Linked DNA regions of Homo sapiens: region 1 is linked to region 2. The links come from fine-mapping of genetic effects on gene expression. Tissue or cell type: pituitary. Region 2 holds a variant in brackets; the other region holds the start of a gene. All regions are shown on one strand. Distances are from middle to middle. Region 1 holds the start of THRB-AS2 (THRB antisense RNA 2). Region 2 overlaps THRB (thyroid hormone receptor beta).

Region 1 (15,986 bases), 22 kb after region 2:
CCTGGGAAACATAGCAAGACCCCATCTCTACGAAACAACTTCAAAATTAGCCAGGTGTGGTGACCATGCACCTGTAGTCCCAGCTACTCAGGAAGCTGAGCTGGGAGGACTGCTTGGGCCCAGGAGTTCAAGGCTCCAGTGAGCCATGGTCATGCCACTGCACTCCAGTCCGGGTGACAGAAGTGAGTCCCTGTCTCAAAAAATAAAAGTTAAAAAAAATTGTAATTTAAAAATATGTCTTAGTTTCAGGAATTCTTGAATCAGAAGAAATGATCCAAAACTCATGTTGTCCCTTTTTCTGCACTAAAGCCTCCGATGAGAATCCAGGGTCCTTTGGCCTCATATCCTCATCCCCTTTTCTAGATTGACACCTCTACTTGGTCCTCCTGCTCGCCCCTCCTCCGCCCACCAGTGCTTCAGTGTTCAAAGCCTGGCGAGCCATTGTCTGCTGTCCCCCAACACCAGGGCCCAGCCAGCCAGAGGGCAAAGTGTAAAGAAAGAGACTCCAAGACTCCAAGCAGGGGTAGGCAGGGTGGGAAAACAGTGGATGTTCTGAGGAAAGATTGTGAATTGTGTGAAGTGGGAGCCCCTGGGGCAGCTCTGCTAATAATTTGCAGAGGGCAATGGATGAAGGCCTCCAAAGTTAATGCTGTTTCAAGTTTGTACCAAGTGTCTTCCACACAGTACACCCATACATGCTGTTAAATAAACAAATGGATGAATGCATGGTTTAATTTAATATAGTGTCTATCACAGGGTTAAAGATTAACATGATATAAAGCTTGGTACCTAATGCCAAGAATTAAATATAAAAGGAATCAGGATTCGTATGTTGGGGAAAGGCTAAAGGATAACCCTTTCAAGGTTTTTAAGTTTGTCAAGAAATGACATAGGGAAGGTGCTGGTGGGGAAAACAAGCTTAAATCATCAGGTCTGAGCTGCAGGATGAACTGAGGAGGTTCAGTATAAAATCAGAAGAGTGACTAAGCATGCTAGTGACTTAGCTTCCTGAAGGGTGACAAAATACAGTCTCATCCTCTATCCCGTCCCAAGATCAGATACCTACTGGCTCTGAGTTGATAGCTCTACAAGATGAATCAGCAACATGGAACTTCTTCACTTCTCTGAGCTACCCAAAGTATTTCCCACTACCGCAAACCACAGCCCCTCCCTTAAGATGCCAGGACTGGTTCTGCTAGGCAAGTGGTCTTATACAGATGATAAGATTTGCCAGTTTGGAAAAGATCTCTGAACTCAGCTCTTCTCACATGCTGCTACTTCTGCTCTCCTAGGCAGCACCTTATATTTTAGATCTACTTTCAAGATTAATCTGCTTTATATTCTATTCCCTAAGGGCCATGTATCTGCCAAGGTGACAAGAGGAACCAGTGTTTCTCCTCCTAGGACCTGAGATGCTGTTATAATTCACTCAAAAGAATTAAACTAGCCAGCCTTCTGATCTTGCCCATAGGGAAGAAAGCATTGAATCTGTTTTCAACCAAGAAGGCAAGCTTACTACCTGTTGCATCCTTTGTAGTGCAAATGTACAAAACTTTCCCCTTCTACATGACAAGTCGCTCAGAGAATATTTTTTAAATAGCATTAACTGTAAGATATTCAAGATAATACTTAGCAATTAACCAGACATTGCCAAATGTCAACTGAAAAAATCTCAAGTCCTTTGTTGAACAGATGGAGTTTGCTTTTATAAAAATATGCTTGATAAAGTGGCAGCATAATGTATTAATCTGAAAAATAATACATCTGAGCAGACAAGAGCTGAGGGAAATATATCATTTTTGAACTATCATATATTGTCATGGACCTTAATTTTTTCTGGAGGGTTATTGACCAGGCTTCTTTAGCAGTCACCTGGGACAACTAGCAGATGCAGTTCCTGACATGAACAGTCGTAGCTTCCAGGATTGTGTCTGTAGTATTTGTTTCTAGGCAGAATCCAACGCTGACATTATGACACTCATCAGTGTCCACTCTTGGCAACAAAACTAATGATACATGTGCATTTTCCTTAGTTTGGCATACTGACCATTGTGTAACTCATTTGGTGAGTATGACAAAGGAAAATGATGGAGACACTAAAATACAACAGGAAATACAACAGCAAGAAATGGTTAAGTTCTCTAGGAGAATTGGTTAGTATGTAATGTTGTCAATCATGTTCAGTAACCTTAAGAGAATCCTCACCTACCTAGTCACTATGTGTGGGACATTATTCCCTGATGGAAGTTATTTAATGAAGAATAATGGACTTAGGCATAATGATTGATGTATCATTGCCTGTGGTGACTGTTTTGGATAAATAAGATGGTTCAGAGTTAATATGTTACAGAAAAGAAAGCAAGGGGTGGGGTGCACTAGTATGATCATGTAAGTAGCTGCCACCAACTTAAGTAGATGTTTCTGTAGAAGTTTTGATGATTTAACTAAAGTCATTTAATCACCTCCACCCATGAAGAAGATAGTCTAGGAGAAATAAGAGAGTAAAGCACACCACCTCTCAGCCTAGCAGTCAGTAAATGAAAGGAGTCCATTCCAGTCACTGATTGAATTATTGTTGGATTCCACAAGAACCTTAAACACCATCTACATAAATTGTTGAACTACAGGTAGGAATAAATCTTCAGTGTCTGGCTGCCAATGCCAAAAGATAAAGCCAGCAGGTCTCATGAGACAGGCTGGGGTAGTATGAGGTGAGAGGGAACTACCTGCATCTTCCCAACTCTGGTTAATGTTCTTGGACACCTTGTTTTGACCCCTCCCAAGTCATGTCCCACAAGTACAGCAGTGTTCAAGTGTATCACAATTGGTTCTCATACCTGAGATTAGACAGAAATGACTTGTACCTCTTTTTCCCTTATCTCTGCATTCCATACTTGATACTAAGAACTTGAAAGTCTTCATTCTGTTGGATTAATTGTGTATAACCTCGAGGTATAAGAGGTTCAGATGTAGCTTTTTTGACAGTATGGGTCTGTATATTCCATCTGCCTTTACCAGGAAGGTGCCTGTTTTCCTAATTGAGTTACTTTGTGGTTTAAAAGTTACTTTGTGTTTTATAAGTAGGTCTTTATATGCACACAAAAGCACATGAGCACACCTCCTTACCAACACTTGTGACTGTGTCATTTTTGTTAAAACCATACTAGTGAGTGTAAAGTGGTATCTCATTGTGGTTTTGATTTGCATTTCCCTGCAATGATGTTGAGCATCTTTTCATGTTCTTCCCTTCATTTTCACCTCTCTTTTTCTCATTGAAGAATGACCAAGGCTACAGAAACAGAACTCAGCTTATGAGTTTACAAAGGAAGAAACCATGTCTTACTCATTTTTGTATTTTCAGCACCTAGAACAATGCTAAGCACATGTAGATGCTAAATAAATGTTTTCTGAATTCATAGATAAATGACTGAATGAACGCGCAAAGCATTCTAGTTCCCTTTTTTCTCTGCCCAGATCCTTCCCAGAATTCCCTTTTTAAAAATGACTGACAAGAGTTTTGAAACCCTTGCAGTGAACTCAACAGATGAATCATGGTTTGCATGATGCAAAAGTAAACTAAGAAAAGCTGTGATATTTAAAAATATAATCCTGTACATTACTAAACCTCACTTTCAAGTCAATTATCTGCCTCCCAAGAAGGAACATTTTTCTAAATTAAAGTTGGAGCAACATAATTTCTAAGAAATTATGAAAAGGATTTATTTCATTCTGTTTCCTTAATGGCTTTTTTTCTGAAAAGCAAGACTTCAGTGACCTAGTTTAATAAAAGGTCTATGAAATGTCACGGTAAGATACACAGTAAGGCATCAGTCATTTCAACCTAGCTAATCTTTATTGGAACAAAGAAGACTTTGCTGAACTGAGTCAAAAAACTTCATAAGGACCATGATAGGGAGAAAGGATTGTTTCTCAGCCTCTTCCTTCTTCACATCCCAACCAATCCTGCCTCATTTTGATTGTTTGGTCTTATGTGAAGCTGTGTGATTCTATATATCACATAATTTATCAATGGTAAACCATTGATAGAGGGGAGAATGAACCTGCCCTCCTGAATCAGCATCTTGTGTCTGGGCATCCTCTCCACAGGAAGCTGAAGGAGCAAAGACAGGAGGGAAACAGGAGGCTTCTGCTTTTGTGCTTTTTAGCTTCCTGAGTCAAGGAATTTAAACTAATAAACTCATTGTCCACTAAAAAAGAGAGTTATCATAGTTGGATTTTCCTTTTTTCTTAATAAACAAAACCTCTGTCATTTCACACTATCCAGTGTTGTTGGATTGCATATCATAATATCACAAGTTTACCTAACTTTTTTAGGTGGCAAAATTCATTCTACTTAAAGTCAACTCTCCATTTTTAGAAAAAGACCAGCATATTACACTGGAGGGCTAGAAATTAAGAGACTGGGGTTTTAGTCCTGCCTGTAATTTCCAGTGAGACCCTGAGGAAGGCCAAACCTCTGCAGGCCTGTTTCTTCACCTTACAAGGACTTCGTCATCTCCCGGGACCTTTCCAGCTATAAAGTTTTCTGAATTCATTGCATGGTACTGTGATTCCAAAGTGGATCAAATCTTGTGAAAACAGGTTTTGAAATAAGCCTTGTTAAATAGATTGTGTTATCTAGAACTCACAGTGCTCAAATCCTGGCCTCTCTGCTTGAGTCACTGGCTCTACAGCCTTCCTGCCATTCCCACCTGCACAGCAAGTGATCACAGCTATCTTTCTTTCTTTCTTTCTTTCTTTCTTTCTTTCTTTTTTTTTTTTTGGCAGAATTTCGCTCTTGTCGCCCAGGCTGGAGTGCAGTGGCACAATCTCAGCTCACTGCAACCTCTGCCTCCTGGGTTCAAGTGATTATCTTGCCTCAGCCTCCTGAGTAGCTGGGATTACAGGTGCCTGTCACCATGCCCGGCTAATTATTTGTATTTTTAGTAGAGAGAGGGTTTTGCCATGTTGGCCAGGCTGGTCTTGAACTCCTGACCCCAGGTGATCCACCTGCCTGGGCCTCCCAAAGTGCTGGGATTATAGGTGTGAGCTATTTCTAAGGCATTCTGAAATCCTGGGCCTATGTTAACTCTATGAGTATAAAATTCTTACCGTTTGGTTTCACTAAGTCTTTACTGTTGTTACCTCTTCCTGGCAAGCCAATTTTGTCTCTGGCCTAGCAACCTTAGCTATAGTGTCTCTTTGACGTTAACATATTATTTTTTAATATTCCTTCTTTTATTTCCTTCACAGGGTACATCCCCAGTTACTTAGACAAGGACGAGCTCTGTGTAGTGTGTGGTGACAAAGCCACCGGGTATCACTACCGCTGTATCACGTGTGAAGGCTGCAAGGTAATTGCCCTGGGTCCACAAGCACAGAGCTTAGCCCAGCTCCAGTCCCCTCCCAGTCCTCTTCCAGAATGCAATGTTAAGTTTAAATTCAAATTAAAATCAAATTCTAACATCCATGGTCTGTGATCATCCAGGTGTCTGGTTGTGCTCTTCATTTTTGACATGTTCAAGAACTGAATTTTTTTCCCAAATCATAAATAACTAAATGAGTGTAATGTCTGGTTTCTTTACTTCTGCAAGTGTTTTTAAAACAGGAAGAGAATCAATAAAATAAAAAGAAATTAATAAAACTCTTACTTTGGGTTTAAAAAGCATAGGTCCTTTTTAACATGTTGTCATCCCGAGAAATGACTGTTTCTCTTCTTGTTTTATCTACAGTGTTGGAGGAGACAGAGTTTACTCTACCACAGGCTGTTTTCTGCTGTTAGTCTGAGTGAATATGCTCATTTTCAAGGGTTCCAATAGGGAATATCTTTGAGGCTACTTAGATTCAGTTATGTTCTGAAATTATCCAAGTTGGCTTTTCGCACAGCCTGCAGTGACTAAGTAGATTCTGGTCATCCATCGGCTAATTTTGTGCTGTACAGTCCTATCTGCAGGAAATACTTGACAAGAATATACCAGTGATCAGTCCATTCACTTCCTGAAACTGAACCTAAATTGGCCTACTTACAAGACTTCATCAACAAAATTCAGATAAGGTTTCTGGAAAATATCTTTTGGTCCAACAATCTAGCCTTGAAAATGAAATCTACCATAAAGGAAAAAGCTTGACCCAGTGCTGTATTTCGTGTCTGTTCAGCTAATGTTTCATAAATAAAGAAGTATTTAAAGTCAGGGAAGGACTTTTAAAATTGTTTACTTGTTAAATACCTTGTCTTTTTTACCTCTTATATTTAAAACTAAATTATCAAGATGTAAACCCTAAAGCAAAAATTGTATTAAATGTATAAAACATTTCACCTTCCCTCCTCTCTCATCCACCTTACCTCTTTTTCTCTTCTTCCGCTTCTCCAACTGCCCCGCTTTGTTCATACCCTTGCTCGTAAAGCCCCCAAATCAACATGTTAGCTCAGTTTCAAATTAAGGTGTTTTCCTTTTCCCTAGTGGAAGATTTTCCATGCAAATTCCCTATGTTTTTGTACGTGACATTAGGAAACATTTAGGAGAAGGCTGCTAAAAATGTTGAGATAATACATCCATTGGAAAGGGGTAATTTCTAAGGTTGCAAGACTTGCTTTTTGGAATGTGGTGTAACATGTTCTTATTTATCCAGACCCCTTTGATCTGGAATTCGTAGTCCTTTAACAAAGACTGGGCTAAAGGTTGCCATTACATCTATGAAAATAATGTCTTAGGGAATTTAATGAATCTAATTACAAGTAAGTTCTGGCTATTTATTAATTAGAGACTTGCAGACAGTCTCTTGAAAGTAGTTTTATTGGCTTGATTTGAAAGTAATAAAACTACATAACTTTAGGTACCTACTCTCATTCCAAAAGTTCGATAATTCAAACTAGACTTTTCTCTAAATTAGTCCCAATTCATAAGGCTTTCCCTACCTTAGTTGCAGCACTGAGATTCTTCTAAATCGGCGCATAATGGGAAATTTCGAATTCTGGGAGAGAGATCCTGATTCCATTTAATATGGAATTCAATTTAATACTTAATTCCCCAAAATGACTCTAAAGAGTGAATGTGCCTTACAGAGGACAATACGTTATTAGTGACTGACTTAAACAAAGAGAGAATTGAGCCTATTAACCTATATCCCTGCCTCACATATGTCTTCAGGATGATCAAGAAATCAACTAGCCTGTTTTCCCTAGATCACAGGATGTTTGGAGCCTGGATCAGCTGAGGTTTTCTTAAAAGAAGAAATCGTGTAGCAAAATCTAGATTTTTTTTCAGATTCTGTGACTTTGTCTCAGGTCAGAATCCTGTTTCTAGGGTTGCCTTCATTGTAAAATCAGAGAAGAGCCTTCCCAGGGTACTTGTGCGGATCACTTAATATAATGACAAAGCATCTTGGAAAAAGACAAACGAGTTTTTCAAGTGAAACACGGTTTTTAAGAGTGGTGAAAGATGAAAGGGTTAATTGTTTCCTATATCGTTTATTCAAACCTGTAATTTAAAAATATTTCTACCCCATACTTGCAATGTGTATGGAGAGAATCCTTTTTGCCAGTTTTCACCCTGAGAAGAGTGAAATCTTTTGGAGATGTCATGTCTGTTGTGATATCCAAGTTTTTACACATCTTTTGTAGAAAGGATATTGATACTGTCCCACAGCAAACTATTTTTAGAGAAAGAATCAAAGCTTTTCAACAGCTGCCTGAATAGTGAACTAGAAGAGTGAGTTATCTCCTTTTCACATTGATCAGTGAATCATCTCAAAGTACTAAAAAATGGATACAGTTCTTCTCAGAATACAAAGAAACATGTCTGATATTGATTTATAAAAGCAAGACCTCTTCTTACCAACAAATCATCAATGAAATATATGTCCTTATTTATTGCCCAGGGCATCTCTTTTGTCAGCTCATCTCTAAAAGGATTTTTTTAAAATAAGTAGACTGTTTTAAATGTCTTCAAGTCCACTTCCAAGAGTTAATTTCTGTTACTTTTTAAAATGAAGTGGTTCCTTATCATACATCAAAATATGCTTTAATTATAGCTTAAGAAAGGCCAACATTTTAAGAAGAAAATCAAGAAAAAACAAAAAAAAGAAAGGCCAACATCTTTAAAAGGATTTGGTCCATGAAGTGCCCAAGACAAGTCATCAGAGATAGGCCACAGAAAAGATGGCATAGTGTATAGTAGAGCTAGCTATCTCAACTCTTTTGTGGAAATAAGCAAAGTATAAATTATTTCATTCATCCCAATAAAAAGTGAACAGAGTGACTTTTTGGAGTGTCTGGTGTGTCACACCTCATTCTCTGCTTAGCGTGGTCTTACTGGTCAATGTACTCCTTGCCCTAAACCCACCCCTGAACATGAGTCAGCATCAGAGTATGAGGGAGACAAGGGTCTCCCCAACTTCAGATAGACTAACAATCTTCCTATCCTAGTAAGCCGTCAGCATTCTTACTGGATGTCTTGGACTTTGGTATTTCTACCTCTAGGAAATTATTGTTTCCTCCAGAAGGAGGCGTGCTACCCTACCCCTCCCCTCCCTGTCTGTGACATACATCTTCTTGCCAGGAATCTCTGGGTTTCTTTAGTTCTCCTTTGCCCTCCTTGGTCAGAGGGTAGCAGAGAGAAAAGCTAGGTTTGCAGGGAAACTTGTTTTTCACTCTCATGGCATGCTCTGACATTCATGCTTTGGCAAGATTTGCCCACCCTGCACACCCAGGAAATCATTGCCAACATCTCCAACAACTGCCCTGCGTGTGAATGAGTGAATCTTGTAACAGTGTATGAACATCACTGAAATTAATGGACTCAAGTGCTTAGGAACACAGAACCCAAATATAATATTGACAGTTTTCTGTTAGAACTTGAACAATGGAAATGATAAGGGATTTGCATATACGCCCCAAAATCAAGTCTGTTAGTCTCAGTTATTCCTGATGTTTTTCTATTTTATTCTGCTTTGCCCAATATAAAATCCTACCTCGGGCATTTTCATAATAAGAAAGAGCTTTTGTGTCTGAAGGAGGAATATGCAATAGGGTATACGTATATAATCAAAGCCAAAGAACATTAACCGGGATCATAAAAATTTGGGCTGAATCTAGATCAACTGATATTTCCCACCATTTATCTAGCAAAGTTAGAGGACCCCTTTAGGCCTTAGCAGAAGACATCCATCAAAACTTGTTTTGCCACCAGGAACAGTGGCTCATGCCTGTAATCCCAGCACTTTGGGAGGCGGAGGCAGACGGATCACTTGAGGCCAGGTGTTGGAGACCAGCCTGGCCAATATGGCAAAAACGCATCTCTACTAAAAATACAAAAATTAGCCAGGCGTGGTGGCTCACGCCTATAATCCCAGCACTTTGGGAGGCCAAGGAGGACGGATCACTGAAGGCCAGGAGTTCGAGACCAGCCTGGCCAACATGGCAAAACCCCGTCTCTACTAAAAATACAAAAATTAGCCAGGTGTGGTAGCACACGCCTGTAATCCCAGCTACTCTGGATGCTAAGATATGAGAATCACTTGCACCCTGGAGGTGGAGGTTGTAGTGAGCCAAGATCGCACCACTGCACCCCAGCCTAGGTGACAGAGCGAGACTCTGTCTCAAAAAAAATTTTTTTTAATTTCTTACATTTTAAAACACTCATTTTGCCTTGTTATCCTACCAACAGTTAAAATGAACTTTTTAAGTGGCTGGGGCAGGACTGTTTATAATCTGTTGATCTAAAACATTCAAGTAATACAGTAAAATTTACTTCATTATACATCATATAAGCAGTTAAGCAAGTAAGATGTGGAGTGCCGCTCCTGGGTTGCAAGGGAGGTGGGGGTCATTGCTGGGTGGTTTCCATCCTACCTGAAGTTCCCACATGTACTTACCATGTGATTTGGGCAAGCGATTTAACCTGTCTGAGGTTTACTTTTTTAATCCCTACCATGGAAATATTTAGAGCACCTCCTTTACATGATTGTAGGGAAGATAGAAGGATATTGAATGTTTCTACAGCACTTAGCAATGTGCCCTCACAATAAGTGCTCACTGCTGTTATTAACTTCTACAATACAGATGACAGTTGCCTCAACTTGAGGATCACGTCCAGAAAAATTCTAGTATTGCACATTCTTGAGAATATTACCTAAGTCACCCAAACCTAGAACTAAACAGTGTCCCCAGATGCTACAGAGGTGCTCTCTCATGCCTTAAGAAAGGAAGAATCATTGAACCTGTAGGTGTATGTCTACAGATACCAAAGAAAGAGTGTTATAAAAGGAAAACCTCAATGCAATGAGCTATGGGGAAAAACTTGGTAGAAAACCTGGAGCGTTCTACTCCCTGAGTCCTATTGTTTGAAAGGCTAAGTGAGCTGATCATGGCTGTCTCAAGATTCAAAAACAAGTATTAAACTAAATCCAGGAAGCCAGCTAGTACATCTGTTTAATTACTAAATTATTAGATTTTTAATTAATAAAGTATTGCAAGTATCCATGTCTTTTCATTTTTTTCACTTTCTTCTTGGTCTTGGAGCTCTCTTATTACTCAGTATAAAGTAGCAAAACTCCTCATAGCTTAATTTAGCAACACAATTATGTCAGTATATGAAATAGAACAGTATAATTTACTTATATATTCAATATTTAGAAAAAATAAAAACAAGCGCTAGATGTTCCTACTAGCCTCTTTTCCTTGAATAAAGACCAAAAAAAAAGGTGTTGACTCTGTAGTCCTATGGCATCATCAGCTCAGATTTAGAACTCTCTAGATCCTTCTGGGCCAACTGTCTTATATTTGAATATGTGGAGCTAGAGGCCTAGAAACAGGTTAAGGTCCAAAACGATTCATCTCATAGTTATATGGACACAAAATTCCAGAATCACTGATTTCAAGAAAATATGAAACTGTTGTCTTGGGTCTTTGTTTTTCATATAGGGTTTCTTTAGAAGAACCATTCAGAAAAATCTCCATCCATCCTATTCCTGTAAATATGAAGGAAAATGTGTCATAGACAAAGTCACGCGAAATCAGTGCCAGGAATGTCGCTTTAAGAAATGCATCTATGTTGGCATGGCAACAGATTGTAAGTAGATCTTCACTTGCTTCATATTCAAGGAATGTTGATTAGGAAACAGTTTGGTTCAAGGAGATCGACTGGGCAGAAAAGAAGGCAGGAACCCAAGAAGACAGAGAAGGGAATACCTTACTTTCGCATACACCCCTCACTCCCCACATCCAGGCTTGCCCTGAAAGGGAGGTGGGAGCCATTGCTGGGTGGGTTCCATCCTACCCTGTCATACCACCTCCTAACTGTCAAAGTATGGATGATGGAGGAGGAAATGCAGTTAAATTATCCCTATCACATTTGCAGGCCTAGTTGTTAGCAACACTCTGTTTGAGACAGAGATTACAAATGAGAGGTCTGGTCCATTTACCTTGATAAGGTATCATTCTATACACAGTGTTCACATGGGGTAGAGCCTCAGGGACTAGTCCTAATATTTTTTCAAGAGCAAAGACAGGAATTTATTTTATGGACATTTTTGGAGATGGGGCGCTGGCAGAAAACATCGTGTTCAGAAATTTCTGAAGAATGCAAAGTTGAGTGCTATTGCATGAGTCATCCTGCAGTTGGTTGTTTGTTATATTTTTAGCAATAAAGACATTCCGAGCTGAAGTCGTCCTACCCAGTTTTCAAAGTGCTACAGCATATGGTGGCGAGATTAGCCCTTGGGGTCTCTTCTCCCCACACTGTGCGAGGGATTTACACCAGTCACTTTAATTAATCTAATCATAAAAATAAGAATCATGTCATTCAGAATGTGTGGCCTCCCTTTTGCCAGGCATCAGTATTAATGATTCTACTGGCATAAATTTTTTGCACATCAGTGAGAGATTCCAACTATTAGTTAAAAATTAAAAAGAAAAAGAAAGATAAAAAATGAAGAAAGAAAAAAGAAAATACAGTGAGGATTTTTCCTGATGAAAGAAGTAATCATGACTCACATTTTATGTGAGAAATAGAGTTCTTTCACTGAGAAAAAAAAATCTGTGAAATGTTCTGGTTTGCCCATTAAAGAAGAAGGAATGGAGAATCTTTAAAAAGGAAGAGGGTTATGTTAGAGTGTTAGGCTGGAAATCCTGGGTTAATCCCCACCTCTGGCTGAGTATTTTCTTTATCTTTATCTCTTAAAGGCCTTTAGCCCTTGCCAACAATATGCCTGATAGGGATATGTGAATATGATTGACTTACAGCCAAATACTTAGATATGCCACTATGACAAACTTATTATTGATTATCTATTTCAGTGTTCTATTGAGAAGTTTAAGATACTAGTGTCTATGAGGTTTAAAAACTCAGTGTTAATCTAGACTGTATGGAAATAAATTTTGAGTGCCCTTTACTTGCTTGTGAGGGATTCTAAGAGCTCAGGCTTTCTAATCAGAAAAACTTCTGTTCGAGTCCCAGATCTGTCACTTACTAGCTGTGTGACCTTTGGAATTAAGCTGAGATTTTCCTTCTGTGAAATCATTGCCTACCTTGTAGAGTTGTTTTCAAGATTAAATTAGATAATGTTCATCAAATACAACAGTCCCTGGCACACCGGAAGCATTTGGGAAGGGGTTGAGGGTATTATTACCATTCCTCCTTTCCCTTTAGTAACTGAACCAAAATGACTTAACAGGGCTCATTCATATTTTCCTCATTTGTAAGCGCTCACATGACTTTGACAATCCAATCAAATCTAAATGGTCTGGAATTTAATATTCTCTTTAAATTAGAATATTTAAATGGGAGACTAGCTAGGCACCTTGGTTCTCCTTCTCTTGCTATGTCTGCTTTTTTTCTTTTCCTACCAGGTCACACCTTCATCAAGAAATGGCCCTAGGACAGTGATGTCGTAGAACTGGAGTCAGGAGTCCTGGGTCTTGCCTTGGCTCTGCCATTAACTTGCTCTGTGACTTTAGGCAAGTCACGACCTCTCTGGATCAATTTCTTCTTCTTTCTGTGAAAAGACAGAGTAGGACTAGATGACGTCTAAGTTCCCTTCCAGTTCTAAAATACTATGACTCTGCAATGTAAAACCTGAGCCTTTCCATTCCATTGATAGTTACCAAGTCTAGTGAAACGGTTTTGGTTTTGGAAATTGACCACAGAAATATAGGTTTCTTGTTACCTGCCCTTCTGATTTTCCTTTCACCCAAATGATAGAAGTCAGGACTGCATTTACTGAGCACTTATAATGCATTATCACATTGAATACTCTGTGAAGTGGGTATTATTGAGCCCATTTTGTATAGGAAGAAATGAAAGCTCAGAGAACCTAAGGAACTTGCCAGAGGTCACACAGCTAGAATGTAATAATATCAGAATTCAAACCCAAGTCTTTCTAGATTCCAAAGCCTGGACTCTTTAACCACCCTTGAGGGTGGACCAGGTAGAGAATAATGTACAGTGAGTACCTTGAGGCCCAGGTGAGGCCCAGCCACATTCCAATTAGCCCTTAAGGGAGCCATGAAGAGTTGGGGTCCTTTTTCCTCTTAAAAAAAGGGATCACGAGCCTCCCACTTACTGCTCCATAACGTTTCTTTTTTTAATTCCATAACGTTTCTTTAACCTGAAGTTCTCTTTACTAAGAGCCGTTTTAGGGGAAGCGGGGAGGACAGAAACCCAGAGAGTGAATTCGGATGACTGGCTGGACAGATTTCTCTGTGATCTTGTGGGTAGTATGGATTTTACCTCTCTGCTTCACTCTGTTTTAGAACCACCTTCTGTGGAGTTGGAGTGCGCAGTGTCTAGGTTCTCTGGGGACTTTGTTTTGAAAAGCTGGCCGGTCATGGGGAGTTTGGCTCTAGAGACCATGTTGGACAAGACTAGTCAATGGCAGTTTGCTGGTGAGGAGAGAAACTGTCCCAGTGTGACCCACCCCGAAGGACCCAGTAAGCCATCTGTGCATCAGTGGTCCCACTCCTGAGGCTCCAGGAAGTGCAGCTTGCTGTGTATCTTGGGAGCATCTGTGTGCCTTGTCTCATCTTTCTCCCCCTCCCAGTGGTGCTGGATGACAGCAAGAGGCTGGCCAAGAGGAAGCTGATAGAGGAGAACCGGGAGAAAAGACGGCGGGAAGAGCTGCAGAAGTCCATCGGGCACAAGCCAGAGCCCACAGACGAGGAATGGGAGCTCATCAAAACTGTCACCGAAGCCCATGTGGCGACCAACGCCCAAGGCAGCCACTGGAAGCAAAAACGGAAATTCCTGGTAAGGCTTCCTTGCACAGATCAGTTTCACTTATATGCCAGTGTTTTCTACCTCAATTTATTCAGTCCTCATCACCTTGGGATACTGGTGTTATTGCCTCATTTTACTGATAGGGAAACCGTAGCTCTGAGAGGCTGAGTAACTTGCAAAGCTAGGATTTGAGTCTAGGTCTGTGTGAGAATAAAGGCCACTCCTACCATCTACTTTGTGATTTGCTGAATTCTAAAACAGTTTCTTAGGCCACATTATATCAGTTTGCTTTTACTGTTAGAAAGACCACTCCCAGACCAACTAATTAGTAAAATGTTTTGTCTGCCATCTTTTACTTTCTATACCCATTTCTTTCCTTAGATGCCCAGTATATACATATTTAGTCCCTGAACTCAATCCCAAATATTCCCTTTATAATAGCCTCTAGGCCTCAAGTATATTTTTATGTCAACAGAAGTCAAAATTTTTTAGCTTAAATTAAATGAGCTTGACTCAAGAAGGGCAATGGGAATGAGGGAGTAGGGATAGGGTTGGTGGGCACGAGTGTGTAGAGAAAAAAGACCTTCCAGACCCTTGCAATATTGATGTTTAATATTCTTATAAAAATTACCAGTTGTGAAAATTCTTCCCATTCATTTTTTATTCAGACTTCATAGTGTTTTGAGGTAAGCTGGAATTACTATCCCCATTTTACAGACATGCAAACCAAGCCCAAGGCCTTAAGCCGCTTGCCCAGGATCGCACTGCTAAAAGCCAGGCACCAAAACCAACTCGGTCTTCTGGTTCCAAGTCCAGGCTCTCCACCCACCTCATTAGAAAGACTACGTGCCCTACTAGTGCTGGACCATCTCAGAGACTGACTCTGCTCTTAGTTTATGATATAAAACCCTTTTCAAGTACCTACCTGACAACAGATATTCTGTGGTTTCATTTGTATCCCTAGGACACATTAGAGTACTTCCCCATCTGAACAAGAAGATATAGTGGTATAATTATCCTTGTACCTCAACATTAACATTACAATGAGATAGTGGATCTTTTTCTTAAAACAACATAACAACAACCTTAAAGGAAGTTTTGGAAAGAAAAGGCTTATACATAATTCACCTGTACTGACACAATTACTTTCGTTGTAATGAAACAATAGTGCCAGCACTTTGTTGATGGCTTTCACTAACAGCAATGTCAGCAAATACCTAGATGGCCTTTACCATATGCCAGGTACTATTCTAAGTGCTTTTCATTCATTAACTTCCTATACCAATCCTGTAGGTAGATGTGGTTAATATCTCCATTTTACAGAAGAGAGAAGTAAGACACAGAAGTTGAGGAAACTTGCCTGAGCTCCCACAACTGGTAAACAGTGGTGATGGATGCAGCCAGCTCCGGGATTTATGTCTCTATCCACTACCCTATGCAATCTTGGCACCTGCACAAACCCAAAAAGCCTCTGAAAGATCCCAGCTCTTTGGAGGAGCAGCCTCTCAGTGCCTTGATCTTGCATCTTCACCCCACCCTGGTATATCTGCCAGAAAATTCAAAAGCACTAATTCTGGATTGATAGACAAATTCTAACACAGTACACTTGGGGCATAGCAAGACAGAGTCCTACCTAATTGCAAACTTAAATCCATCCTTTCCCCAAATGTGTCACCCATAAATGGACATTGTAGAAACCACTTCCAGGCCTGGCACTGTCTCCTGATTTCAAGTCGTGACCAAGCTGAATTCCAAGTAAGGTAGAAGATTTGA
Region 2 (15,986 bases):
CCCATACCCCTCACCTGGATTCACCAATTGTTAACATTTTACCATATTTCTTTTCTCATTCTCTGTATGTGTTTGTTTGCATATATACATATTATTATTATGTCATTTGCAAACCATATGAGAGTAAGTTATAAACATCATGCCCTTTTAACTCTAAATACCTGCTAAAACTAAGGAAATTATCTTAGGACACCATAGCACAATTATCAGAATTGGGAAGTTTAACGTTGATGCCTACTATTTTCTAATCTACAGACTTTATTTACATTTTACAAATTATCCTTCCTGCCACCCCCTTGGAGGGGGAGTTGAGGTGAGGACCAGAGCTGGAGAGAGGACTTGTCTCTAAGGGGTTTTCACAGGCTTCATTCCTCTAGATAGGGCTGGGAGAGGCCACCACCAATTGTCCTCTATACCAATCTTATTTTCCGGTCTGGGATCCAGGCCAGGATCATTCATTTTATTTATTTATTTTTTATCTCTTTAGTCTGCTTCTTCCTCCCACCACCTGTGCAGCTTTATTAGAGTATAATGGACAAATAAAAATTGTATGTATTTATCATGTACATGTTATGTTTTGCCACATTATACAGCTTTAAATTATTAAATCAAGCTAATTAACATATCTATCACCTATATCCTTATCATTTTTTGTGGTGAGAACATTTTAGCAATATCTAACTGAAATTATGTACCCTTTGACGAACATCTATCTGTTCTACCTACCCTCCCCGCTGCAGACCTTAGTTATCACCATTCTACTCTAGTCTGCTTCGATTTCAGCTTTTTCCATTCCACATATAGTGGAGATCATGGAGTGTTTTTCTTTCTGTGCCTGGCCTATTTCACTTAGCATAATGTCCTCCAGGTTCATGTTAGTCTGGAACCGTTTCACAGTTTTTCTTTGTCGTTCACACCATTGAAGAAATATTTCTTGACAAAATACAGGCTGATTATTATTTTGGAATGTCCCTTAATTTAAGTTTGATGGATGTTTCCTCATGATTTTTTTTAGACAAGGTCTCACTTTGTTGCCCAAGCTGGAGTGCAGTGGTGAGCTAATAGCTCACTGCAGCCCTGAACTCCTGGCCTAAAGTGATTTACCCACCTTGGCCTCCTTTGCTCTGGGTTACAGGCATGAGCCACCGCACCCAGCCTTTCCTCATGATTAGAATCAGATTATACATTTTGGACAGAGATACTAAAAAATTGTATGATACGGTGTTTGTTCCTATAAAATTTTGAATTTAATTATATGATGCAGAAATAGTTTTCAATCTTCCAAACCACTTATATCTTAGTGTGAGCAGGCCTAGATCTTTACTGGTGAGCTGGCTCATTATCTTACTGGGTTAGAAGAAAGTATATTTTCTAAAGTCCTCTAATAAGCAGCTATTCAATGCTCTAAAGGTGAATGTCAGAAGAAAAAGTTACTTGTTTCTCTGTCCCCTGTGACATTTTTAAGGTTGGACCCATAGGATGATACTTACCTAGGGAACACCTTTCTCCATAATAGGGGCAAAGAGCACATTGTCCACGGTCTGAAGACTTTTCTGAAGATTAAAAAAAAGACACAGCCACTTTATTCTCGTCTCATATTTTAACTAAACATTCTTTTCTTTCCACAATCCAATCATATTACATTACAAAACAACTAAGATCAGAGTATGTCTTGATAACCTTGATATTTATTGTGTAACTTTCTAGAACATTTTGACATTTGAAATAAAATGAAGAATTTCAATTTGCCATTTCTGGATTTGGATCTCAAGGGCACCAACATGAAGTAGATCCTATTTTTGCAAACTTTTACAAATCCTTTTTCTCTACTCATCCTTCAAGGCCCAATTCAGACATCGCTTCCTCTGTGCGCCCCCATGCCCCATCAGAATGAATTTGGATTTTTGTTTTTAATGCTGTGATGAAATTTTGTACAAGTATTCATTGTGTTCTGCCTTATTTAATTGTGGCTTCTGAACATGCCTGTTTGATTCACTGCAGATGGTGAATTCGTCATAATTTATACTGACAATGTTTTAAATTGAGTGTGTTCTGTGTGTCCAATACTGTACTATATGCTGAGAATAAAAAGTTAAATGCACACCCCTTTTTTCGTAGGATTTTTCAAACAGAAAATGTTGGCAGAGCTTCGAGTCTAGGCTTGCAATGAGCAGTAACTCTGTTGACAACCAAGCGATGATGAAAATTCTATTGGCTGGCTGGCATTTGTCTTAGGAAAGAATAATGAAGAATGTAACCTACGTTGTTTCAAAAATAATGATTCCATTTTACTCCATGTTCACTTAACACTTGAAGTATTCAGTGTGTGGGATACTGTTTTCTGCTTGCTGATAGGTATTTTTAGTTTGATTGCAAATTTCAGAGTCAGGGCCAGGTCTTCCTTCTATAGTGTATCTCCATTAGATCTGGGAGAATAACATACATGGTATTGATACATAAATGATGTAAACTTTATTTTATTTTGAGAATCAGTCTTAATTAACTCAAGCTGTTTGTAGCCCTGCATCTATTTTTGTAAAGCTTCACTGAGATATAATTTACATGCCATCAAATTCCCCTGTTTTAAGTGTATAGTTCAATGATTGTTAGTATATTTACAGAGGCATGCAACCATCATCAGGATCTTATTTTAGAACATTTCCATCATCCCAAAAGAAACTTTGAGTCGTTTACAGTTACTCCCCATTCCTGTGCCCAGCCTCTGGCAACCATTTTTCTTTCAGTCCCTGTAGATTTGCCTTTTCTGAAGCTTAACAAAAGTGGAATGCTACAATACGTGGTCTTGTATGACTGGCATCTTTCTCTTAGTATACTGTTTTTGAGATTCACCCACAATGTAGCATGTATCAGTACTTTGAACTTTTTACCTTTTATTATTTTTATAACATTTTCAAGTATAATGTAGGACTGGAGCCTTTACTGACAAAGAATAAATCTTTTGAAACTACATCAGCTGTGGCATAGTCTAAATTTTGCACTAGTTGTTCTTAAGGGTGAAAAAGCAAAGTAAATGCAGGTGATTCAATTGTTCATTCATTATTCCTATTATTAGGGAAATTTGTTTTAAAATTAATCTCTGACATGCTATTCTGGGATAAAGAAAGTATACTGTAGCTGTTAAATGTCAAAATTATTCCACTTAAACAACCACTCAACTTTTCACATCAAGTCGATCATTGTGAATTACAGTGAAATAATTATCTTAACACATTAAGGGGAAACATATCTACTTTATCTAATGATTAAATTAAAAAATACATTAAATGAGTTGCTATGTGAAATTCAAGCAAAACATAAATGATATTTATAAAAACAAAATATCGAAGAGCATTTTTTTCTAGAGATATAAGGAAACATATTGACTATAATAAATATACAATGTGACATTAAATTAAGCACATCTTTGGAAAAACAGATAAATCATTGAAGTGATCTTAGAATTTGTGTTGAAACACATTATTAGTCACCCAGAAATTCAAAAACAATAAAATAATTTTCCACTTAGAAAAGCATAGCGTGGAAGTGGGAAAAGTGATTTCTAGAATAGTAACTTGAGGGCCTAAATTTCAATACTAACCTTTTCCCTTTGTAATTATGTACAGTAAGAAAAGCACCCCTCAGTTTTCCACTGTGCAAAATGAATGGAAATACCTTCCCAAGCAATCTTATTGTTTATAAAGACACCATGCAATAGACCTCATCATTATTATGTAGCCAATTGTCTAATTAAAGGTACACCAAAACTGAAATATTTTTGCATTTTTTTATGCCATGATATTCAAGCCACATCAGACTATATTAGATTCATTAAGGTTGGTTTTGAATCAAATGTTCATTTATAAAAAAGAGCAGACATTCCACTGTTGGCTTAGCAAATAGAAGACTTCAATGATGATAACAGTGGTCTGAAGTATATTTCAAATTTTTCACTTTTCTTTCAATCTCCAGCCTTACGAATACTATTCTGTTCACTTTTGTATATGTGCATTTTTCTTTTGGTGTGGATCCTGAGCTCTTTTTGAATAGTATCTCATTCTCTCAAAGCACAAGAAGACTTTATGATTTGCCTTTGGTCTTCTTGGGAAATATCAGTCAGAATAAAACCCTTGATCGTTATCCCAGAGTTCTTATGTGAAAGACACTATGCTAGGACTCCAGTCTTTAATCAGCACTGTTCCATCCACTGGAAATACTATGCAAGAAAGGGCTTGGAATAGTAAAAACGTGTCTGGGAATTTTGGACCCTACAACCCATTACTTGAAAACTTAAATGGAACAAATCTTGAATTTAGGCTGAAATCAGACTATATATTGTTTCTCAATATGCAGAAGAGGATTTCATGGACTAAACATCCAGCAAAGATTGTTTAGTAATTTTCTGAGTGTATAAATTCCCTTGTCTGACATGATTAAGTTTCTGGACTCATCAAAGAGGACAGATGACAAACCACGAAGAATCACTGCATGTCAGTCACTATAGCCCTACAGTTTCCCAGACTCCAGCGTAAGCTGCTAAATGGCATAAGGGCAGCAAAACAGAGACATACCATTTTGGACATAAATATGGTATTTGCATGCATTGAGAATACCACTTATCAGTCTTATGACTGTGGGCAAGTTATGGAACCTCCCTGAGTCTCAGTTTCCTTATCTCTAAAACAGGAACAGTCATGTCTACAAGCAGGATTGCTGTGAGGCTTAAATGATATAATCTATAGGAAAGTGGTTAGCACAGTGCATGGGCCACTGTACGCAGGAAACTGTGTGTGACCAAGCCAGAGAGATGCTGTTCAACAAAACTGCAAATGGCCAGCATTCAGGTCATATGAGAAAGTGGCAAGAGATAAGAGTAGAAAGTAGTCAGGAGCTACATTGCAAAAGACTTCTAAGTCTTTAAGCTTTATCTTAAAAACTAAAGATTATTGCAAGCTAGGATTGGGGTTGTGGGAGGGGTAACAGGTGACATGCTTTAGATTCTCCTTTAAAATCAATTCCCCTAGCTGCAACGTGGTGGATGAATGGAAAGATCAGAGTAAGATGAGAGGTATAGAAACCTCTTGGGTTAGCCAAGTTTTCTCTTAAAAATGAAATGATTAGTTTAATTAAAATAGTAACAGCATAGAATAGTTGGCCCTTTGTGACTAGAGGCTGTGGCAAAGCTACAGAGAGATAAGCAAGCTGTAACGAAAAGTCCAAGTATGTAATTTCTACTTGAACAGATCTGGATTTGAATCCTCACTCTTCAAATTACCATTGTGCCACTTCAGACAAATAGATTTTTTTTCATCTATTAAAAAAATGTGGCTACATTAGGACAAATACCTAATGCATGCCCGGCTTAACACGTAGATGACAGGTTGACAGGTGCAGCAAACCACCATGGCACACGTATACCTATGTAACAAACCTGCACGTCCTGCACATGTATCCCAGAACTTGAAGTAAAATAAAAATTTTTTTTAAAATGTGGCCAGTCATAGCTGCTGTAGGACTATTGTGATGTTTAAATAAGATGATGCATATAAACACCCAACACAGAATCTGACACACTGAGTTTAGAATTGGTATGTGAGGTACCTTGGCATCCACAGAAAGGGGTTTGGTAGGTGGCTGGAATGCAGGTCTGGAAGGCACAAGAGAGATTAAGCACCATCTGCACACGGGCAATAGCTGAAGCTGTAGACACTGATGGCTTCACCTGGAAGAATATGTATGGTTAGAAGAGGGCTGAGAATAGAACCAAAGTTATGGCCAATTGTAAAAGACAGATGAGGAGATCATCCCTTGAAGATGACTGAAAAGAACTGTCCAGGGATAGAGGAGACATGTGGGAAAAGGCTGTATGACATGGAGGTTTCTGGTATACCATCAATAGGTTTGGCTGTGGAGTTGGGTGGAAGCAGAGAGCTTGTGCTGTTGTGATAGTATTATGTCCAAAGACCCAAAAATGTCAGATATCACTGCTCCTGTTGACAGTCTGGAGTGACAGTGATAAAGTTTGTTGTGTATTATGGTACTGGTAGTGCATGGTCACCAAAACTCAAAGTAGAGGCCAGGAAAATTGAGCTGCATTGGCCACATGGAGCACGCCGTTCTTCCTAGCCTAATTAGGCCTAAAACATTTTAGATCAAGGACAAAGTCAATACACCTGCCAGGACCAGGAGAAAACCAACAGAAGAAGACAGAAGTTTTGAGAATCCAGGGCTCAAGGTAACAGCCAGTGATGCTAGAAAAGTTGACACAGACTAGCTAGAGCAACTTCAGCCTTTACTAAGACAGTGGTTCTCAAACTTCGGCTAGTATCAGAATCCCCTGGAGGGCTTGCTGTCCCCACCCCCCAGAGTTTACGATCCAGTTGGTCTGGGGTGGGCTGCAGAATTTGCATTTCTAAGAAGTTCCAGGATATGCTAATGCTGCTGGTTCAGAAACCACCATTTGAGAATCACTGACCTAAGAATTTTGGACTCTTTTATAATCTTTGTGGAACCACAAAAGGCTGTTCTTTTTAACTTGCTCATCCTAGAAATTGACATATTTCATCTAGTAAAAGGCTGCTGTAGCTAAGTTTGTGGTATCTTTTGCATTAATGTGCTGAGGCAATTATTCCACCTTTGTGAAATAAAACATGCAACTCCAAAATTTAGACCCACAAAGAGGGTGTCCAGGTTGAGGAAGCCACCAGGACTGCCTTGATGAGAGTCTCTTGCCCTTTGGAAATCTCTCAGTTCAATTACTGGGCCTGCTTCCATCAGCTTGGTCCCTGAGACTGTCTTGTTCCTGCTTCAATGTTCTAATCAGAGCCAATTTTTTTCCACTGCACCAGATCAGAATCCATTCCCTTTTCACTAGTAAAACACTGTCACTTTTTCAAGCACATTTTTGTAAAAGCATATTCTGCTTGGTGATCGATTGTGAACAAAAGTCTCCCCTTAGTGCCCTTTTGTAGAGCTGTAATGGGCTAGAACTATCAAAAGCTTTTATGAAATGCCAAGGGAAAAAATTAGAAACAAATTCAGTTAACAATATGTTTTAAAAGAGAAGAGCTTTGAGTTTCTATTCCTACTGAAACAGACTTAATTCAAGAGCCCAAGAGGCCCTGGTCTTGTCCTGTGCCCACCTGGGGATTTGCATTTCCATGTGTCCAGCCTGCCTCTTCTGGCCGGCAGCTTTCCTCGTTGGTAAAGACCCTAAAAAGGACACTCCCCTTCAGCAGATTTCTTCTCTCTGTTCTTGGTGTGTAATCTGAGAAATGCACTGTTATGTATCCGTGCCTTAAGCTCCAGCATATATATCCAACAGAGCAGATGACTAGGTTTTTCAAAGTATGTTTCATGGAACACTTGTAACAAATGTTACAAGATACACACAGGGTTCTATGATCAGAAATGTTTAGGAAATGCTGTTATACAAAGTCATTCAAAGTTGTGTGTGTGTGAATCTCCAAGAGAGGAGCATTAATGTGTCATTTCCCAAACTCATTTGATTATAAAGTTTATTTTTATTGTTTTCTCTTTAGATCATCTCTTGGGACTGTATTATGGGACCACTTAGGGAACACCATCTGAATATTAACCCAGTAGCCATGGTGTTCATTTATTAAGAATTACACCATTACAGTAGTGGTAGGGGAGGAGGAGCCATGCTAATTAACACTCCCAGGACTGAGGAAGTAAAAGTTTCTAAAATGGTTAGAGTTTTGCATGATCTAGTGACTCAAGGCTTTATATTATTTGGCAGAAATGCTGAGGAGGGACAGTCAATCCCCAGGCCTAAGACAAGTTCCTTTACTCCCTTTCCTCCACAGCACCTTTTTAACCCTAGAACACTAGGCCCAGGTGGGAAAATAAAGGCCCCACCTACAATAGGAGAAATGATACAGTCAAAGCAGGAGTGGGTCACGGCCTCAACGGCTACCACCTACCATGTGACAAGTCACTTCATCCCCTTGGGATTCAGTTTTCTCATAATCAGATAAAATACATGTGGAATGCATAGCTCAGAAGTTCCTGCTGTAATATCCTAGGATCCTAAGAAAACATAAAACAGGTCTCAGCCTCCATAAGTGTTCCATATGTGTTAGCGTCTGGAGGGAGGGCTGCTTTAAAGTTGGGTGCTCCGGAAGTCCCAGGAGCTTGCCCTGCTCACATCTCTGGAGTTGAACTGATTTGAAGTCCTTTTCAAAAGCAATGAGTCCGAAGATTCCAGACCTCAACAATCCAAGAAAGCATGGTCAAAAAGTTTTTGTGCACCTCTTTGGTTTCCGCCAAAATGTATTAGATGTGCTTTCAGCACTTCAGTGGTAAGATCGAGACTCATGCTTCTTTACATTTTTAAAGGAAACTTTCCTCAATTTGAGTAGTTACTTCAAAGGGCAGCAAATGTCTCAATCCTTTTTATCATCTCTTTTGGGGCAGAGATGATTGGCACTGATGATGGTTACTTGTAATTCCATAACCTCAACTGAGGTAAGTTTAATAAACAGCTCTATCTCTGTTCTCTTGTGACGAAGATATAAAAGAACAAACTGGATCGATTTTAGACAGACAGATATCTCCCAGAAACTTTCAAGCCTAAGATAATCCACTTATTGCAATATGTAACATTTTATCTTTTTTTTTTTTAAATGCACATGGATTTTGGTGCAGAGAGTCCTCCATCTTTTTTCTGAGAGAGCAAGTGTTGTTATGTATATGAAGAGTGTCAGGGCTTTCAGGCCTCTGATGGTATCAAGAGGTTCCTGACACACAAAATGTCACTTAGGCTCCATCCAAACAAATGAGAAGGGCTCTGTCCTGTGAAGAGCTAAAGGGAGGAATATATCAGACAGACAGAAGAACATGTGCAGCGTCCTTGAATTGAGGCAGGCAAAAACTTGGAGTGCTCAAGGAATAATAAGGATGCTATTTTGGTTTATGTCAAGGAAGCAGGAGGGTTGATAAGTAGTGGGGAAGGACCACCTTTTGGTAGAGGTTTGGATTTTGTTCTAAATACAGTACAAAGCCACTGAAGGTTTTAAACAAGGAAGAAACATTATCTGATTTGCAGCCTGTAAAACATCACTCTTTGGTGGCTGTGTCAAGAAAATATTAAAGTGGGCCAAAGCTAATGAGAAAGCCAGAAGGGAGTCCAGTTAGGAGATGATGATGGATTGGACTGCGAGATGGCAGCGGAGAGAAGGAAGTAGTTGGATTAAACATATATTTTGGAGGAAGAACCAATGAACTTGCTAATGAATTGGATTTAGGTAGTGAAGGGAAGAAAAGAGTTGTCTTGAAGGTTATTTGCTTAAGCTCCCAGGT[G/A]GATGGTGGTGCCAAGATGGGACTACTGTGAGAGGAACAGGTTTTAGAAAGAATTAAGTTGGAGATGCCCTGGTTGGGCAAATGGAGATGTCAAGTTGATGGTTGGATATAGGATCCTGGTTTCAGAGGTGACATCTGCGATGGAGATATCCACATGGATGTTGCATATAATTAGTATTTAAAGCTGTGAGACAGGATGAGATCAGCTAGAGCAGGGCTTGGCAAACTTTTTCTCCAAAATACCAGGTGGTAAATATTTTCAGCAGGCTATAAGGTCTCTCTTGCAACTACTCAACTCTGCCATGGTAGCACAAAAGCAGCCACAGGCAATATGTAACAAATAAAAGCTGTATTCCAGTAAACTTTATTTACGAAACAGGTGGTGGGTCATGTTTGGCCCACAGGCTGAAGATTGCTGACCTGTGACCTAGAGTATAGACTGAGAAGTAGCCCAAGACAAGACCTAAGAGATATATATTATAATATATATATATAATATATATTATTATAATTATTATGTATATATAATTATGTCACTTACTAGGCCAGTCATCATTCTAAGTGCTTTACTTATATAAACTCACTTAATCTTCACAATAACCAATGAAGTGACTACCGTTATCTGTTTTACAAATAAGAAAACTGTGACCTAAATAAGTTTATTTCTGTCTCGAGAAAAAAAGAAGTCCAGAAGTTGGCAGTCCAGTGCTAGTATGGCAATTCTGTGTATTTCAGCAACCTAGAATTTTCCAGATCATTCTTCCGTAATCCCTAGAGTATAGTCCTCACTCTCATGGACCAAAATGATGGCTGGGGCTCCAGTCATTGCAGGGAGCAGAAAGTCAAAACAAAGTAGAGGCAAATGGAATGCACCAGTTGTCTTTTAATGTGTCTTTTAAGTTTCCTAGAAATTGCCTTGCAACACTTCTTCTATTACATCTCGTTGGCCAGAAGTTAGTCACACAGACACATATTGACAAAGGGGAAACTGGGACGTATAGTTTTTTTCTCAGGGGCCATGAGCCCAACTAAAATTTAGCGGTTCAATTACTAAAACAGAAAGTGAGAACAATCATTAGAGTGGAAGTTAAAAGGCTCTGACCAGTTGCTTTAAAGCTTATCAATTATCTTTCTTTATGTGTATTTTTGCAAGTACAGTTAGTTGATAGCACCCTTCCTAAGACATTTCTGCTCAGCCATTTCATATCTTAGGCCTCCACTGATGATGTCCTACATACTCTTCCAGCTCACTGGTCACCTCTTCTGTGAAGCCATCCCTGGCACTCTAGGCAGATTACTCCTGTGTCCCCATGCCAAGTTTATTACACTTCTCCTTGTATTTCGTTCTTTCCTAGCGTGCCTCCTTTTGTGCTGCCTCCTCTGCTTGACTGGTTAACTCAAAGGCAGGTGAAGCCTGGTTGAAGTGTGGAGGGTAAATTGCTAAGAACTAAGGGAAATATGTAGTGAAGCTGCAAATGAAGAAAAAGGAGTTAGTACACAGGATTTCCTGCTCCTTGGTGAAGGGACTGGGGTCAGACACCTAGTAGAACAAGTGGTTCTCAAATGTTGCTACTTATGTAAATAACCTCAGGAACTTCTTTTAAAAATCTTGATGCTAAAGTTTCACCCATAATTATTAAAGCGGACTTTCTATAAGTCACACCTAGGCGCATATATATATATATATATATTATTGATTGAAACACTTCTAATCGGAATTATTAAAGTCCTCCTGAGTTTATTTAAGGCAGTTGGATGCACTATAAGTGAAATAACTCTTAAGCTGCTCTTTAAATAATTAGAGCAGGCAATCAAGAAAATAAGACAACAACCTCACTGAAGCTTACCCCATTTGTGACACATAATATGTTTAGATTGCTTTACTGACTTTACAAAGAAGCATGCAAGACTGAATCACAGGTGACAGATGTGATTGCTTCTATCAGGATGTGAGGGGCCATATTTCAAATTCAATGTAAGTGTTGAGCTCCATTTTCAACTAATAGTAATGAAAGTTTTGTGCATTCGTTACAAGTAAAGAGTATTCCCACTTGGTATGAGGAGTGTTTCAGAATGTTTTGTTCTCTTTTCTCCAAACAATAAACATTCGTGAGGAAGTGAGCTCTCTTAAATATGTTTTGAAACTTTTTTTAATTTAAAGATTTCTGAGGGAATTCAGGATTTTTTAAATTCAATAAAAATACTGTTGACCTTTCTGACGTTTAGTAAAAAGAGAGAGAAAGTTTTTCAGCAGCTATTCTTTCCTTTTTCACTGCAGTATTTATATCCAGTTCCAGGGGAGAATAACTCTCCAATTTTTCAAGCATATTTAGAGATTTCTGAAAATTATTTTTAAGTATTCCTTTGGAATAAAAGTTGAGTCTCTGATTTTCGTTGATATTGTTACTGATGAAAAGCAAGAAATTGCTTGGATTTCTGCCTTTAATGAGAAAGAGAGGGAGCCAGGAAATGCACTGGGCAAAACTGCAAAATCGAATGGATTCAACACGCAGCTCTTAACCAGAAAAAGAGACTTTGGAACATGTGCATTTGCCAAAAAAGAAAACTGCTTTATTGAAAGGTTAATTTTCAGATTAGGCTTGGGAAATTTGAGATAAATAAATGACATCAGACAAAAAAACATAAGGCCTGGATCCTTTTTCCTGGGGTTTTCAGAAAATAGTTATTGCTTCCAATGAAATGTTTTGACATTTCCAGTAGGGAGAAAATGTTAATTGTAATATTGTGTATGTGTTCTTAGTAACACTGAATAAATCTTTCATTTGTTTTAATGGTAATCAGAAAGTAAAAACACGATTAAAATGTTAGCTGTGTTCTTTATTCCTTATGGTAACTTTTCATGCTTTCTAGGATATTGTGATTCATTTTCCAGGTTCAAATATATACCAACTGACGAACATGCTTTTGCTTGTTTTATATCAGTTGCAGTTTTTAAAGGAGTCTTATTACTATCCTCCACATAGGTCTGCCTGGGTCTCTTTTCTAATTTTGTCACATCTTTAGCTCATTCTACAATTCCCCACCTTTTCCCTTGAGTCTATGGCTCCTTTACTACATTTATAAAAAGTCAGCAATTAAAGACAGCACAATGGTGGTCCACTTGACTGTATATTTAATATACATGCTATTAAGCTACTTATTGACAGAGACGGTGATTTTTTTTTTCTGAACAGCCATCTCTGTAGCCACCAACTCCTTGCTTTGTACTTAACAGACACCCCATAATTTGTTGAATGACTGTAATACCCTCCTTACTTCTGCCATATGTCCCTGTCCCAGAATTCCACGTTGCAATTGATGACTGGAGCTACATGTCCAAAGCAAAGGTCTCACTGTTGAAAATTACAGTATTACATTGTTGATGGTCCTTTAGAGACAAATACCAACAAGGTCACATGCTCATGGACCAGCAGGAAGCCAAATGTAAACGTAACCACCTGAGGCCGAGCCCTGAAAACAAGCTGCCTAAGAAACGGAAGGAATCCCTAGTGTAGAAGAGCAGCATCCGCCCTTCCTGATGTCATGATCTACAACTATGCATATATGTGACATGCACACACTGGCCACCATCCACAGGGAGAAAATACCATTAGTAATCATCCTAGCAAGCATTCACAATCTAATTTGGTATTTGTTAACTCCTTAGTTAAAAGATATGATGATTCTTACAGAAAATGCTGTTCCCTTTTTGATCACTATCTTTAAGTAAGTACATGAATACCACTTAAATCACATTAAATCTTGAAAATAATCTCAAAAGCAGATTTGAATGGGAATAAAGTGGTAAGTGTTTACAGTTTTCCACGCACTACTGATCAGAGTACTGTTAAGCACCAACAGAAAAGGAAAGCTGCTATATAATAGGGGTATTCCTCATATAGGGGCATTGGCATACAGTCTCTCATGCCTTTATAAAGAAAACATAAATTACAGAATTGAACAGTTAATGTAAGCTTTAGGTCTCATGTAGATTAGTGCTTATGAAGTAGAAAATAATCATGCGCAAGGAACAGAATAAAACTCACTTGCAGACATCAGCAGCATTTTCAACCGTGTACTTCCTTGGCATGTTTTAAAAACCAGCGGGACCTATGTGTCATGGGAAGATGGTTGGATCCTAGTATGAAAACCCAGTCAGTAACATTCAACAACAGATTCAACCACCAATATTTGCACAGCTAGATTAATGTTTTGGAGTCAGTCAGTCATCAGGCTCATTACTACTGGATTTTCTCTGGTTCATGCTAATAAACTAGATTATTGATTTTAGGATTTTCTTTGTATCCAAGGATATTCTCTAAGATGTCTTTATAATGTTTCATGCTTAAGCTGTCAACCAAAATGACATAACAATGAGTAATCGTTTTATAATCATGTTGAAAGGGGTTAAAAACAGCATATAAAATGCATCTTAGCAGCTTCAGAGTAACATTCTCGCTGTCACTTCCCTATCTGGGTGGAGGTCATTCCTACCTGCCTGCCATCTTCCCCAGGAATTAACTAGCTGCATGCACAGCTTAAGACCTTTGATAGTCATAAATCTGCTTTCCAATATGTTTGGATGGCAGAAGAGCTCAAAAGACACCTCGGTCTAAATAGGATTTTAGCACATCAGGTGCTATTACAAAGTAAAGCAGGCTGGGTTGCTGTGTTGGTGGTGGTGTTTATTCATCTTCCCTTCGCGTTTCATGTGTATGTATGTATGCTTCTCTGCGTATATGCCCAGCTCTCAGGGTGTATGGGGCTGGAGAATGCATGCGTAGACTGTGTGTATATGTAAACTAGAAACTGAACCAGGGAAACAAAATGAACTACTGTATGCAAGAAATATATGAAGTGCACCCAGCTGCCGGCAGCAATTGCTACATGCAGTCCACTGATTATTACGCGTATTTTGAAGATAGTCCGGGTTACAGCGGTTGCGATGCTCAGGCTGTGCCCAGTAACAACATATATATGGAACAGGCCTGGGCAGTGAATCAGCCTTATACCTGTAGTTACCCTGGAAACATGTTTAAAAGCAAGGACTCTGACTTGGACATGGCCCTGAATCAATACAGCCAACCTGAATATTTCACTGAAGAAAAGCCTACTTTTTCTCAAGTGCAGTCGCCATCGTATTCTCAAAAAAAAGGTAGGGACCATTTTGCTTAAATTTGTTCAAAGTTTCACTGTTTGTTTTCGTTTCATTTTAAAGTTACAGTTTACATCAGCTTCGTCAAATCTTTGAATTTGAACGCTAAATATTTGAAATTAAAAACGGCAGTAAGAGGGGTTGCTAGGTGATTGAAGGACTCTGTGAACATCAAGATTTCCAAGCACTTTTTTTCTTCATCTTTGAAAGCTGGAGTGAGTTGCCTTTCTGTATTTTGCATGTGTGTGTATATATTGCCCAAAGTGACTATTGTTGGCTTCTTTGCGAAAGAAAATATGTGAAAGGTTTCCTTCTGGCGGGTAGGTGTTGTGGTGTTTGAAGTGAGATAATTCTCTCTAGTTCAGGTTCAGATTAAAAACTCATTTGACTTTTCCTTGGCACTTCATTTTGAAAGTTTATTTTAGTTGACTAGTTAACTAGTAAAATATTTAGTGATTTAGTGATTTCTTTAACAGTACTATACTAATGTTGATTTGCTAGGATCTGTAAATGTTCATTTTAATGTATTTATTTATCCATGTAAACAGTAAAGAATCTATTTGTAACCATGTCAAACTGTAAGATGTAAAACTCAAAAACTGAGAAACTTTACTTTGCTATTTTGTCCCTAAAGTTGAACATGTCTGTAATCATATCAAGTGAATTCTCTTTATGAAAGCAAGTGAAACACACTTCAAAATAGCCAATATTAAAACCAGTACGATATCCATTTATCTTAATAGACACTGTGGCTTTATAATGCTATTTAAATTTCTGTCAATAGAACATTTCTTGTATTACTGAAAAATAAGATACTGAAAAATAAAATAAGGGAGGCAAACAGGTAGAACATTAAGTAGCAACTGCCAGATAGGAATGCTTTTGAAGATAGTGTAAATGCTAGTGCAGATATGCCAGAATCTCATGCTTTTGTATATAATCTATAGGATATTGCATAGAGAACCAAATTTACGAGTTTCTATAATTTACAAAAACATGATGCCCTTTGATCCTCAAAGGTAAATTTCTCTGTTAAATTAATCTTAAAACATAATGTGGTTTATTTAGTTGTGGTTTCTATAAAATTTATCATTTGCTTTTCTTAATGTGACTTTATAATTGAAAGTAGTCTGTTATGAAAACAAATGAACAAAATTTTATAAAAACAAAAACTAGAATCTGTAATTTTTACTATATATAATGTTATTCTATAACTTCCAATCATGAAATATTAAGGGGATTACAGCATGAAATATATTTAGAGTTTCTCATCTTGATTTTTATTTATAAATATAGAGTTTTGCATCCTTTTGAAGGTCATCAGAATCTCATTTATTACAAGGGATACACAGGGTAAGTCCCCTAATGGAAACATTTGAGGTACATTGAACATGTGCTATTTCATTTAATAGTATAAGTAATTTAACTTTGAAAAGAAGAAATTAACATTGCCTCATTAAACATACTTGGATATGCCTTTTGTAGTGTTGTAAGAAAATATTGGTACCTG

The links.
Region 1: THRB-AS2 starts here. The variant in region 2 is fine-mapped to the expression of THRB-AS2 in pituitary (GTEx, PIP 0.91).

What each region holds. Positions count from the first base shown.
Region 1 is chr3:24,141,758-24,157,743 of GRCh38, reverse strand. It overlaps THRB-AS2 (THRB antisense RNA 2), which reads right to left and starts at 6,420. Exons shown (of 4, transcript NR_121667.1): 1 at 6,344-6,420. THRB (thyroid hormone receptor beta) reads left to right here. Exons shown (of 11, transcript NM_001354712.2): 6 at 5,254-5,354; 7 at 10,922-11,069; 8 at 14,038-14,243. RefSeq lists a silencer at 4,530-4,730 and an enhancer at 13,599-14,798.
Region 2 is chr3:24,163,517-24,179,502 of GRCh38, reverse strand. All of the region lies in intron 5 of THRB (thyroid hormone receptor beta), which reads left to right. It overlaps THRB-AS2 (THRB antisense RNA 2), which reads right to left. Exons shown (of 4, transcript NR_121667.1): 2 at 5,599-5,719; 3 at 1,491-1,553. Among named protein-coding and RNA genes, the nearest start is that of THRB-AS2, 20 kb to the right of the region's middle. The variant G/A (reference allele first, on the strand shown) is at 9,322.